2 separate regions of the Homo sapiens genome follow, and region 2 is linked to region 1. Evidence: fine-mapped expression QTL. A gene starts in region 1. The other region holds a variant in brackets. All regions are shown on one strand. Distances are from middle to middle.

Evidence for each region. PIP is the estimated chance that this variant, and not a neighbour inherited with it, causes the effect.
Region 2: its variant is the best candidate, but not a certain one, in a credible set for the expression of SCML4 in whole blood (TOPMed, PIP 0.51).

What each region holds. Positions count from the first base shown.
Region 1 is chr6:107,822,299-107,827,683 of GRCh38, reverse strand. SCML4 (Scm polycomb group protein like 4) reads left to right here and starts at 3,371. Exons shown (of 8, transcript NM_198081.5): 1 at 3,371-3,558. RefSeq lists an enhancer at 5,219-5,288.
Region 2 is chr6:107,785,583-107,790,967 of GRCh38, reverse strand. All of the region lies in intron 1 of SCML4 (Scm polycomb group protein like 4), which reads left to right. Among named protein-coding and RNA genes, the nearest start is that of SCML4, 36 kb to the left of the region's middle. The variant C/A (reference allele first, on the strand shown) is at 2,046.

The DNA.
Region 1 (5,385 bases):
GTGCAAAGAAAATTAACAACGTGGCACAACCTAAGCACCCTTTTCATGGGACAGGGATGTACAAGACTTAGAGAGATGCTAGCTCAGAGCGGTCACTTTTCTTCTTAGCAGGTCCCTCAGCTAATACCAGTCATCCCATCAAATTTCTTTTTTCTTACATGTTTAACTTAAATTTTTCTTGGAATTAAAAACATTTAGGATTTTTTAAAATATTGATTTAAGTTATTAAAAGCTATGTTCCTGGTTGCATGAAGAAAGAAATCCCAGTAAGTTTAAATATATATATTTTAATAAATGTGTGTATATACAGATATATTTAAATAAAAAAATTTAAGTAAAAAATATAAAGATATATTTAAATAAAAATATACATTTAAGTAAAAAACAAATATATATTTAAATAAAAATGTAAATATATATTTAAATAAAAATGTAAATATATTTAAATAAAAATATAAAGATATATTTAAATAAATATATTTACATATTTATTAAATTTATTAAATTACATAATTTAATGAATAATTTATTAAATATCAAATATTTTGAATAACATATTTAAGTAAATAAATATTGTTTACTTAAATATATACATATATATAAAAAATATATATATTTTTTGAGACGGAGTCTCGCTCTGTCGCCCAGGCTGTAGTGCAGTGGCGTGATCTCGGCTCACTGCAAGCTCCGCCTCCCGGGTTCACACCATTCTCCTGCCTCAGCCTCCCAAGTAGCTGGGACTACAGGCGCCTGCCACCACTCCCAGCTAATTTTTTGTATTTTTAGTAGAGACGGGGTTTCACCGTGTTAGCCAGGATGGTCTCGATCTCCTGACCTTGTGATCTGCCCACCTCAGCCTCCCAAAGTGCTGGGATTACAGGCGTGAGCCACCGCGCCCAAGCAATCCAGCTTTTGTTGATTTCAATTTTAGGCTTTATTACCAAGTTGACCTGTTAGATGACAATGGGTGCTTCCCACATGCACCCACCTTGAGGACAAGGACAACAGTAGCCCATCTGGGAGGAGGCAAGGAGGTTGGGCCTGAGGATCAGAGTGAGAAACCCTCACAGAGCTGGGTAGGAAAACCAGCAACTCCTTTCTTATGGGTAGATTCTGCCAACCCTTTTACTTCTTTTACAGGACTTGGAGATTATTTCTGATTACTTAAGAAATGTTATTTTTTTTAATCCTAAGAAACATTTTAGAGTGAAAATTGGTCTAATGTCTCAGCCCATTCCAGGTGCTTTAAGCTCAGTGTAGTGTGGCATGTGTGAGGCCACGGGTGTGAGTATAATAACCGCTGTCGCTGGGACAGAGATGCTGTCCAAACTTAAATCATCCATCTTCTTTCCTTTTCTTTCCTTTTCTTTTCTTCTTTTTCTTTTCTTTCTTTTCTTTTCTTTTCTTCTTTTCTTTTTCTTTCTTTTTTCTTTTTTTTTGAGATGGAATTTCACTCTTGTCACCCAAGCTGGAGTGCAATGGCGTGATCTCAGCTCACTGCAACCTCTCCCTCCCAGGTTCAAGCGATTCTCCTGCCTCAGCCTCCCGAGTAGCTGGGATTACAGGCAAGCGCCACCAAGCCTGGCTAATTTTTGTATTTTTAGTAGAGATGGGGTTTCACCATGTTGGCCAGTCTGGTCTCGAACTCCTAACCTCAAGTCCAGGAGTCCCAAAATGCTGGGATTACAGGCATGAGCCACCACACCTAGCCCATCCATCTTATTTTCTTTTTTTTTTTTTTTTTTTTGAGATGGAGTCTCGCTCTGTCACCCAGGCTGGAGTGCAGTGGCACGGTATCGGCTCACTGTGAGCTCCGCCTCCCGGGTTCACGCCATTCTCCCTCCTCAGCCTCCCAAGTAGCTGGGACTACAGGCGCCCGCCACCACGCCCAGCTAATTTTTTGTATTTTTAGTAGAGACGGGGTTTCACCATTCACAGGATGGTCTCGATCTCCTGACCTCGTGATCCACCCGCCTTGGCCTCCCAAAGTGCTGGGATTACAGGCATGAGCCACTGCACCTGGCCCATCCATCTTATTTTCTTTTCTTCTCCTCTTCCTCCTTCTTTAGTGAAATCAACTTATATGAAATGAAAATGCAAACTACCAAACCTGCCTTTTCCCATACAAAACAACAAAATTTGATGATTAAATGAACTAAAGTAGTGAATTTCTTCTTGCTCAATTAATTACAAGGCTTTGACTTAAAACAATTTTTTATATTTTCATAATAAATTTCAGAGGAGAGATTTCTTATGTACTTCTAATGTGACTCTACACATATATTTAGAGAAACCTCAAGTTGTCCATTGCAGTTTTTTTCACTCTCAGTAACTGGCCAGGTTGTGGCCTAAGCCTTCGTTAGCCCTGGTTGATATTTAGTCCCGGCTAAATTTGTTTGCTGCTCATCCCTAGGAGTAAGCCACATGTTTGTAGAATGGATGTTTCATCTTGTAGGAAATACCTGTGAATATGCCAATATCCCAGAGTGGATGAAATGGGCAATGGGGAGCCCTGCTCCACTTTACAAAAAGAAAGGAAAAGAAAAGATCCCTTCGCCGATATATATTGATTTGCTGCAGAAAATGCAATGGGGCATGGGAATGAATAGTCACTCTTGCCCTGTTTCTATCCTGTGCAGGTCCCACCACGTTGAGGTGGGTAGAGATGCTTACACACACACACATACAGGCCTGGAGCCAAAGTCAGGGCCGGCTTTAATGAACTGTACACATATGTTGTGGGCAGCCGCTGATTTAATATGTACAACCATGGTGTGTGCACACACCTGGATAGGCACACTGCTCTGGGAATCACACAGGGTCTCCTGAACAATGATGCTATTGTAATATTTCTTTTTGTTTTATTTGTCCAAAGTCAAACATTCACTCTGTCAGATCACCAGTGTCTTATAAGCCTGGTGTTGGCCCACACTGCTGCAGGATTGGGACAAAGAGACGATGTTACAGTCTGGTTTCTATGGCAACAGAGGAGGGGTAATGAAAACTGAAATGTTGGAAACACCCATTCTAACCATTGTGACATAATTCAGGTTATTACAAGGATGTAACTACCAAAGAAGCAGAAGTGTCATTACCTTGCAGCTCATGTCGACAAAAAGCTACACTGCACATTTCTCTTAGGCTGCTAAGAGGAAGGAAACACAAAACACACACACACACACACACACACACACACACACACACACACACACACACACACAGAGGCCTCGTTTTCTGCATGTAAAATGTGTGTGTTCTTTAAAAGCCAGTGGTTGGCTGGTTTTCCGGACATGATGTGGTTGAAGCTGTCATCGTAATGGAAATTCATTGCTGTAGCTATGGTAAATCGAGTTTTCTGCCTGTGCTGAATGCATTAGTCTAATGAGATGTTTGCAGCTGGAGCGCAGGGCTGCTGGAGACTAACTGTGAGCTACTAACACGGGTGGAAGATAGCTTTTGCAATACTCGGTTTGCATGTGCTGAAAGTCATCTGTCTTCTGAGTCAACACTCCCGACCTGGTAAACAACCTGCTCAGGGCTCTGGTGAACAAGCTGTAGGTAAGGGAGATGCACAATTGGAGGCGTGCCGTTGACACGGGATCTTTCTCTTGTAACTGTCAGCATGACAGGTTACCTGTTTCAGTTTTTTCTGGGTTGCATGCCTACCTCTATGGCAACGCACAAGAGTGTCCTGCACTAAAACCACTGAGTCCAGTAGGTAAACTTTAGTTCCTCATATGCAAAGTACAGCATTTAATTTATTAACCAGATCTCAGAGGGGAAAATGTAACATTGAATTATATAGTTTATAAATTTGGGCTATATACATGTTCATTACTCTTTAACTCTGCATTTAAATACCTAGAAAGTTATTTTTTTCCAAATGTGAACTCAAGTAACCGGTTAGTTATTTTTTCCCTTCACGATAATTTTGCTTTGTTTTGCTTTTTAATTTTAAAAAAATTGTACTATGTCTTGGGATAAAAATATTTACCTAAAATTTGGTTATTAAAATTGGTATGTTATGAACATGTAAAAGTGTTTTTTTTCCCATTTAATTTTATTTCAAATATCCCAGGTAGAATATTTCACATGTCTTTGTGCTGGTTTTTCCTAATTTATGAGGCATAAATAAGAATAATATTTACTGCTAGTTTCTGGTTTTAATTCGTTTTTTGGGAAAAAAACTGGTGACTATGGAGTATTAGCGGCAGTTTTCCCAAGCTCAAAATCACCTCCTTCCCAGGTGGAGCACTGTGACTTGAACCAGCTTCCACGTGCTCCTCCCAAAGCATGAGGGGTCCTCTCCAGGTTGATTGCTGGCTGGACAGGAGCGGTGGATGAGGCCAGGGTGCAGGCTGCTGAGCTGTTTTGCTGAGTTGAGGTGCTTGAGTCAAAGTTCTTTCCACTATCTGTGATCGTGAACGAGAGGTGTCTCCTCGTGTTGTCTCTAGATTCCATGACGGTACTCATGAGGGTTAGACAATCAGTGGCTTTCTGAGAAAGTGGTTTTTTACTGATCTCAGACACTACAGTACTTGAGAAAGTAATCCAGGCACTTCAGAATCAGGGTATTTGTTATATGCTGTTTTTCTTTCTTTTCAACCAGAGGAACCATTTTTGAAGAATGAGGGATATAGCTGCTTTTTTTCTCCACTTTTTTTTTTTTAAAGCAAAATAGAATATCTGGAGTGAAAGCATAAAAATAACTACAAAGGAATTCTTAGTGTGTTAAACTATCTGGGGGGTATAATATTTGTGTGGAGCATTTTTTGTGTTGCTTGGTAGAACTAGTCTGATAAAATGAGGGGCTGTTTGAGCAACAGCAGCTGGGTGAAGATTACCTAGAAAATCGGTACTGCGTGATCGTCTAAACTCAAAAGGTTAATGTAGAATCTTCAGTTTTAGGGAAATTGGTGGCTTCACAAACTATAACTTTTAAACAGGCTTTTTGACAGAATTTTTAAAAAATATGAATGTGTTTTCTTTAGCTCTTTAAATTGTGTACGTAGATGAGCTCTGAAATATTTTGGTAAATTCATCAGTTTGCTTCATTTGTGGAATTATAACAAAAGTGCAAAGCCCACAAAAATCCAGTTCTTTCATGTATAACATGTTTACATTTCTTCCCTGTGTCCCCAAAATTACTTTTATTTTGCTGCAAAAAAAAAAAAAGAAAAGAAAAAAAGAAAAGAGTAAATGAACGGTAATAGAAAGACAAGAAAACAATAAGCGAAACGAGTAAGTTGCTTTTCATCATTTCTTTGCTTTTGGTGGTGTGTTTTCGAGGCGAGGGAAATCAGCAGAAGCAGTTTCACTTTCTGGTTCTTGACTCCTGGGGGTGAGGGTGAAAGGCTGTCTCCTCTAGCAAGCAGCAGGTAAGCT
Region 2 (5,385 bases), 37 kb after region 1:
CTCCTGAGTAGCTGGGACTACAGGCATGCACCACCATGTCTGGCTAATTTTTGTATTTTTAGTAGATACAGGGTTTCACCATGTTGGCCAGTCTGGTCTCGAACTCCTGACCTCCCGTGATCCGTCCGCCTTAGCCTTCCAAAGTGCTGGGATTACAGACATGAGCCACCATGCCTGGCCTGTTTGGTGCTTTGACCTTTGTGGGACTTGTTGGTTCCTGCAGTAGGTGTGGATGGTTGTCCTCGTCTGGCCATTCCTGATGCTGTGTGTGCCTTTCTGTTTGCACGCTTGTTTGACATCCCTTTGTATCTTCAGGGCCTGGGACAAATGCCTTGCATTTAGTAAGCGTCCAATAAATATTCATACAGATATGGATTTTCAAAAGGTAAACTGTGAAAGCTAATTAAGAATTGACTTAACGGCTGTTGCATGGCCCCAGGAGACCTTTGCGAAGGGGAGAAGACCTAGAAAATAATCCGGTAAGCCCCTGTTTGCTGGCTAACCCCCGAGGGAGAGAAAGCAGGAAAAAAGTGTTGTTATTTTTCCTTTTCTGACCTTTCTTTTTGCAACTAAGAAGTGGAAGTCCTCAATTGTATCATTGTATTGCTCTCTCTCCCCCTTTCTTTCTATGAGTCAATCAAACCATATTGGCGGAGGATTCACTGTATGCAAAGCCCCAAGAGGTCACATAGATTTTCACCAGGCAAGATATTGTCCATGGTAATACTACTGTTGACTTGTCTCAGGGTGATTGCAAAGCTTCCTGGCTTTTTGATCTTGAGAAGTCAGCTGGTAAAATGCAACATCTCCCACCCACCTCCAGCTAGAAACAGAAGCGCTGGGAGATGAAACTTCTTGGATCTCTCAGCAGCTAACCTCTCGTTGACCAGGTGCCAGTGCTGAAAGGCTGGACTAGACTGGACTTGTGCCACTTTTCACAAGATCTGGAGCCTTCCTGAGCTGTCATCTGTATAGATTTGACAGACTCTCCATCTATACGGTGGGAGTACGTAATAATATTTGCCTTAAAGTCTTGTAGTGAGAATTTAATAAAATAATATATGCATGTATGTACGTTTTATTAATTCATTTATTCACCCACTATTTGTTGCTTTGCTGGTCCTGTGAGCTGGGCCCTGTGTGCAGTGGTGTGTGTCAGGATCAGTGCCCACAGCCCGGGGGACATGAGTGTGAGGGGAGAGGCCACCAAGGCTGGGAATCCTCCCTTCCACAGGTGTGGTGCTCTGAGGGAAGGAGGACTTGTTCAGGGACGACTCAGAGATGAATCTGGTGGTTTTGCTGTGGGCCGGCAGGCCTGGTCTCCAGAGATTCTGTGTTTGTGATTATTGGCCACTGTCTTTGTCTGGACTAAGTGTGTGTGGTGGCTGTTTCTTCCTGTGTGACCTGCCCATGTATCCTAGGCTCCTCGATTCTGGGAGACTGCGATGGAGAAGCTGTGTGTCAACGACGCAGGACATAGGGAATTCAGCCGTGCGCTGTCTGCACACCACAACATGCCAGAGGAACCCGCCTGGAAAGGGACCTGTGTTTATGCGGGGCAGTGGGGAGGCAGGATGGGCTGGGACTCAGAGGAGATGTGATGACCAGAGGTGCTCCGCTTCCCTCCCGTCTACCCACAAACATCCAAGGAAGGGATCTTTCTGGGTTCATCTTCACGTCCCTGTGCTCTGCTTAGTGTCTGGCCACTCTAGGTCCCCAGAAAATATTGTCAAATGATTGAAGGGATGATTGAGGAGAGAAAGAGAATAGTCCACTTCTGGCCAGTACTTCCCTTTGAGGGTTAAGAATTCGCTTTTGACCTTGGTCTTGCAGTACTTGTGAAGCCTGCGGAACCAACAGGCTGTGTAAGAGTGGCCACTGAGGGACATGGGCCAGAGAAGTAGTGACCTGCCCACAGTGTCCCTGGTGGAGCAACGCTGGGACTGTGCCTATCAGGACAGCTGAGAAGCCTTTGTGATACTTGGTGACCAGAAGCAAATTAGGCTGCATTTTGTCTTCTTTCCTGTAAGTCAGGGAAACACACA[C/A]TGGGGGAGAGTTTTCCTATGCTCCTTGCTCCAGCCCCCACTCTTTCACCCATTCTGTTCTCAGACCTGGTGACATTTTACTTTCCTAGTATTTGAAGACCCTGGGCTTTTTCTTTGTGAAATAAGAGGGGAGAATAAACCGGTGTGTAGTGACTGTACATACAATGATGGCGACAGTGTCAGGCACCACCAGTACCCTAGCCTTCCTCCCTGGCTCACAGCTTTCTAGAGAGCTCTAAAACCCTCCCTAATACCAGGGTGTTGGTAGCAGCTTCACCCCCATGAGATGGGCATCATCTAGATGGGAGACAAGACTAACGTGATGCTCTGTAGAAAAAGATGAGGAATGTCGCATTGTCTGGATGGGTGTATTTCTTTTGCTTGGCAAATAAAAAGAAATGATCTGTCTTTATGTTGCCTTTAGGGACACTGCAAACAAGATGGTTGGAAATAGAGTTTCTATTGACTCTCTGTTCTCTACAAAGAGAACAAAAGAAAATAATTACCCAGGAAGAATAGTAATTTGTATCACACAGGGTTTACCAATTATGACAGGATCTCATGGTCATTTTCTCATGGGATCCTTATGGCAGCCTGGTGACATGGCTCTGGCAAGTACTGAAGTCTCCGTTTGACAGGGCAGGACACTGATACCCAAGAGTCACTCTGCTATTCTGCTTACTGCCCACTGCAATGCAAAGCCAGCTTTCCTGGTCCTTGCAGAAACATGGTCCTTGTCTATTGGGGAAGCAAAGCTTTCAGCTACCAAATGTGGAGAAACAAAATCAATTTCACGATAACTGTGCACTTGCTCTTGCCTTTTACCTCTAAATGCATCTTTCCTTGACCTGCACAAGAGGTGAAGGCATTGGTCCTGGTGCTGTTTTCATGTTTATTTTCTGCTGATTGTTCCCTGGGTCCGAGGTGGTATCTTTCTTAGACAGTTCTTGGAGGGCAAACATTGGGTTGCTATGTGTCATTACATAGCAGTAACAAAGTGTTTTAGATACTTCAGTGTTTTCCAAAGAGTATCATATGAAGGTATCATAGTTACACATTTCTGTACTTCAGGATGAGCATCTATATGCCTGAAAATCTGTGTGAAAATGTCTGTTGGAATTCCTTGAAGAATTCACAACCCCACCCCCGCAAGACTGGTGAATGGATTCCTACTTGGCAAGGTGCCGACTTGGAGAGTTGTGATTTGTGTTATTTGAATCTTGTTGCTTTATTGTTGAAGTTGTAAGAATTTTTATTAGCAAAGTATGTGAAAGGAATCTAGCTATACTGTTGGTTTATATTACAAAAAATCATCTTGAAAAGAGAATTTGCTTTATAGATAAAGATTGAACTAGAAACAACCCAAACACCAAACCACCAGCGCTTTCTCAAAACTAAATGTAAAGTATAAATAGAGAACAAAACAGGAAATAGTGGTTTGCAAAAATATATATATATGTGTGTGTGTAGCTGCATTCTAAGGTGTCTTTCCTTACACTGTGGGATGTGAGTGCCGAGGCTGAGTGACAGTCGCAGCTGCTGCCTCCTTAGCAGAGACAAGTGTCTCGCAGCAATTGCTGTCTTACTGCTGCCTGCAACCACTCTTTAGCAATCTTCAAAAAAAAATTCGGATCAGCTCTGTAGGCAATAAATAATTATGTTGTTCTATTCACCCGGTTATTTCATGCCCAGAGAGTTGACTGGGTTACTTTATACCATCCAAGCTTTCATGTTGTATCAGTCCCATTTCTTTATATCCTATAGAGACATGGAGATGTGGCCTGAAGGATCAGATTTCTCTCCTGTCCCCCAGCCAGCTCTGTTGCCAGCTCTCTGAATTCTGTCCAGGGCCGACACAGGGAGACAGCTGTAGGGAGTTATGCAGAGAGCTCTGGGGTGGAATCTACCCTCTGCCCACTAATGGGTGATCTCATGTAGCCTCTCTGGGCCTTAGCTCCTCATCTGGAAATCCGAGGACAGTAATGCTTATCTCAAAACCATTGTGAAAATTAAAAGAGATGAAGTAGGCGAAGAGCCATCTTGGCAGCATGGGATGCTCTGCGTCTTATTGCAGTGGCCTTGTTGTTGGAAAGTGGTTGCTGAGTCCTCTGCAGGTAAATTTCTGAGCCTGGTGGCCACTACTAAAAACAAAAGACAAGTACCCTGGGCTGGACTCTGCTGCCTCAGTGCTAAGGAATAGGAGGAGTCCTGGAAGAGGGCTGGGACACTGATCGTCCATTCATTTGTTCATACATCATTTATTTAATAAATATTTGTCAATCCTTAAGATGTGCCAGACACTGAACCAGGTGGGGATAGATGGAAGAAGACACAGAGCCTTCTCCAAGGAGCTCAAGCATATTAGAACAGAGAGACAGGGATGCCAATAAACAGAATAACATGTTGTAGGTGCTGTGATAGAAATGGGTCAATTACAGCCACAAGAAAGGATGTAGAATAGAAAGATTCTGTCCAAGTAGCAATTTTCAGGCAAGACTGTGGGGGAGGAGCCTCTGGAAAGCCACTTCCTTGAGAAACACAAATTTTTGTAGGTGGCTCCTTTTCATCTAGCCAGGGGAAACCACTCACATTTCAGGCAGAAACTGACACTGGTGGGAGAGAGGATAAGCTCCCTCTTGCTGAGCAAAGAACAAGTAATGCCTCTTCTTTGACTCCAACCTTAGACAAAACCATGAGTGGGGGCCCCAGATTAGAAGCTTCTGAGACCTGCTGCGATCCAACTCACTTGAGTTCTCATTGTAGCTTTGATTCAGATTAGAAGCAGGTCAGTTTCATTATTCCAGAAGACTTTCTTAGACTTGGAAATAATAATGAAAGCCTTCTGGAATGAGCTAGGAGTAGGGAAAGTGGGACTGCAGGGCTGCACACAGGGGAGCCTTCAGCCTAGCTGTCCTAGATGTCCTCTAGGGTTGGTAGCAAAATGGGAGCACCCCAAGGCCCCCTTGGAGTACTAGGCTGCAAGGAGCTAGTGAGGGTGAGGTGCGGAGGAGCTGTCAGGCAGGGTATGCGCCAGGCTCTGCCCCTCCCTTGGCTGTTTTGTGGCCCTGGAAAACCTCAGCCTCGTAGGACCTCTCTTTTTTTCTGAGCATCCTGGGCTCTTAGGTCATTATCCGTGAGATACTAGTTGCTTCAGAACTGTCCTCCTGCCATATCATGTACAGATGTCTCCTCTCCCTTACTAGCTATTTAACTTCTCAAAGTCAGGAGGGGAGTGCAGAGGACAGGCTCCACCACAGCACCCCGGTGACCTTGCACATCTCCACATGGGCCACATAGGCAAGGCTGGACCACGGCTGATCTCAGTCCTGGAAGAGTGACC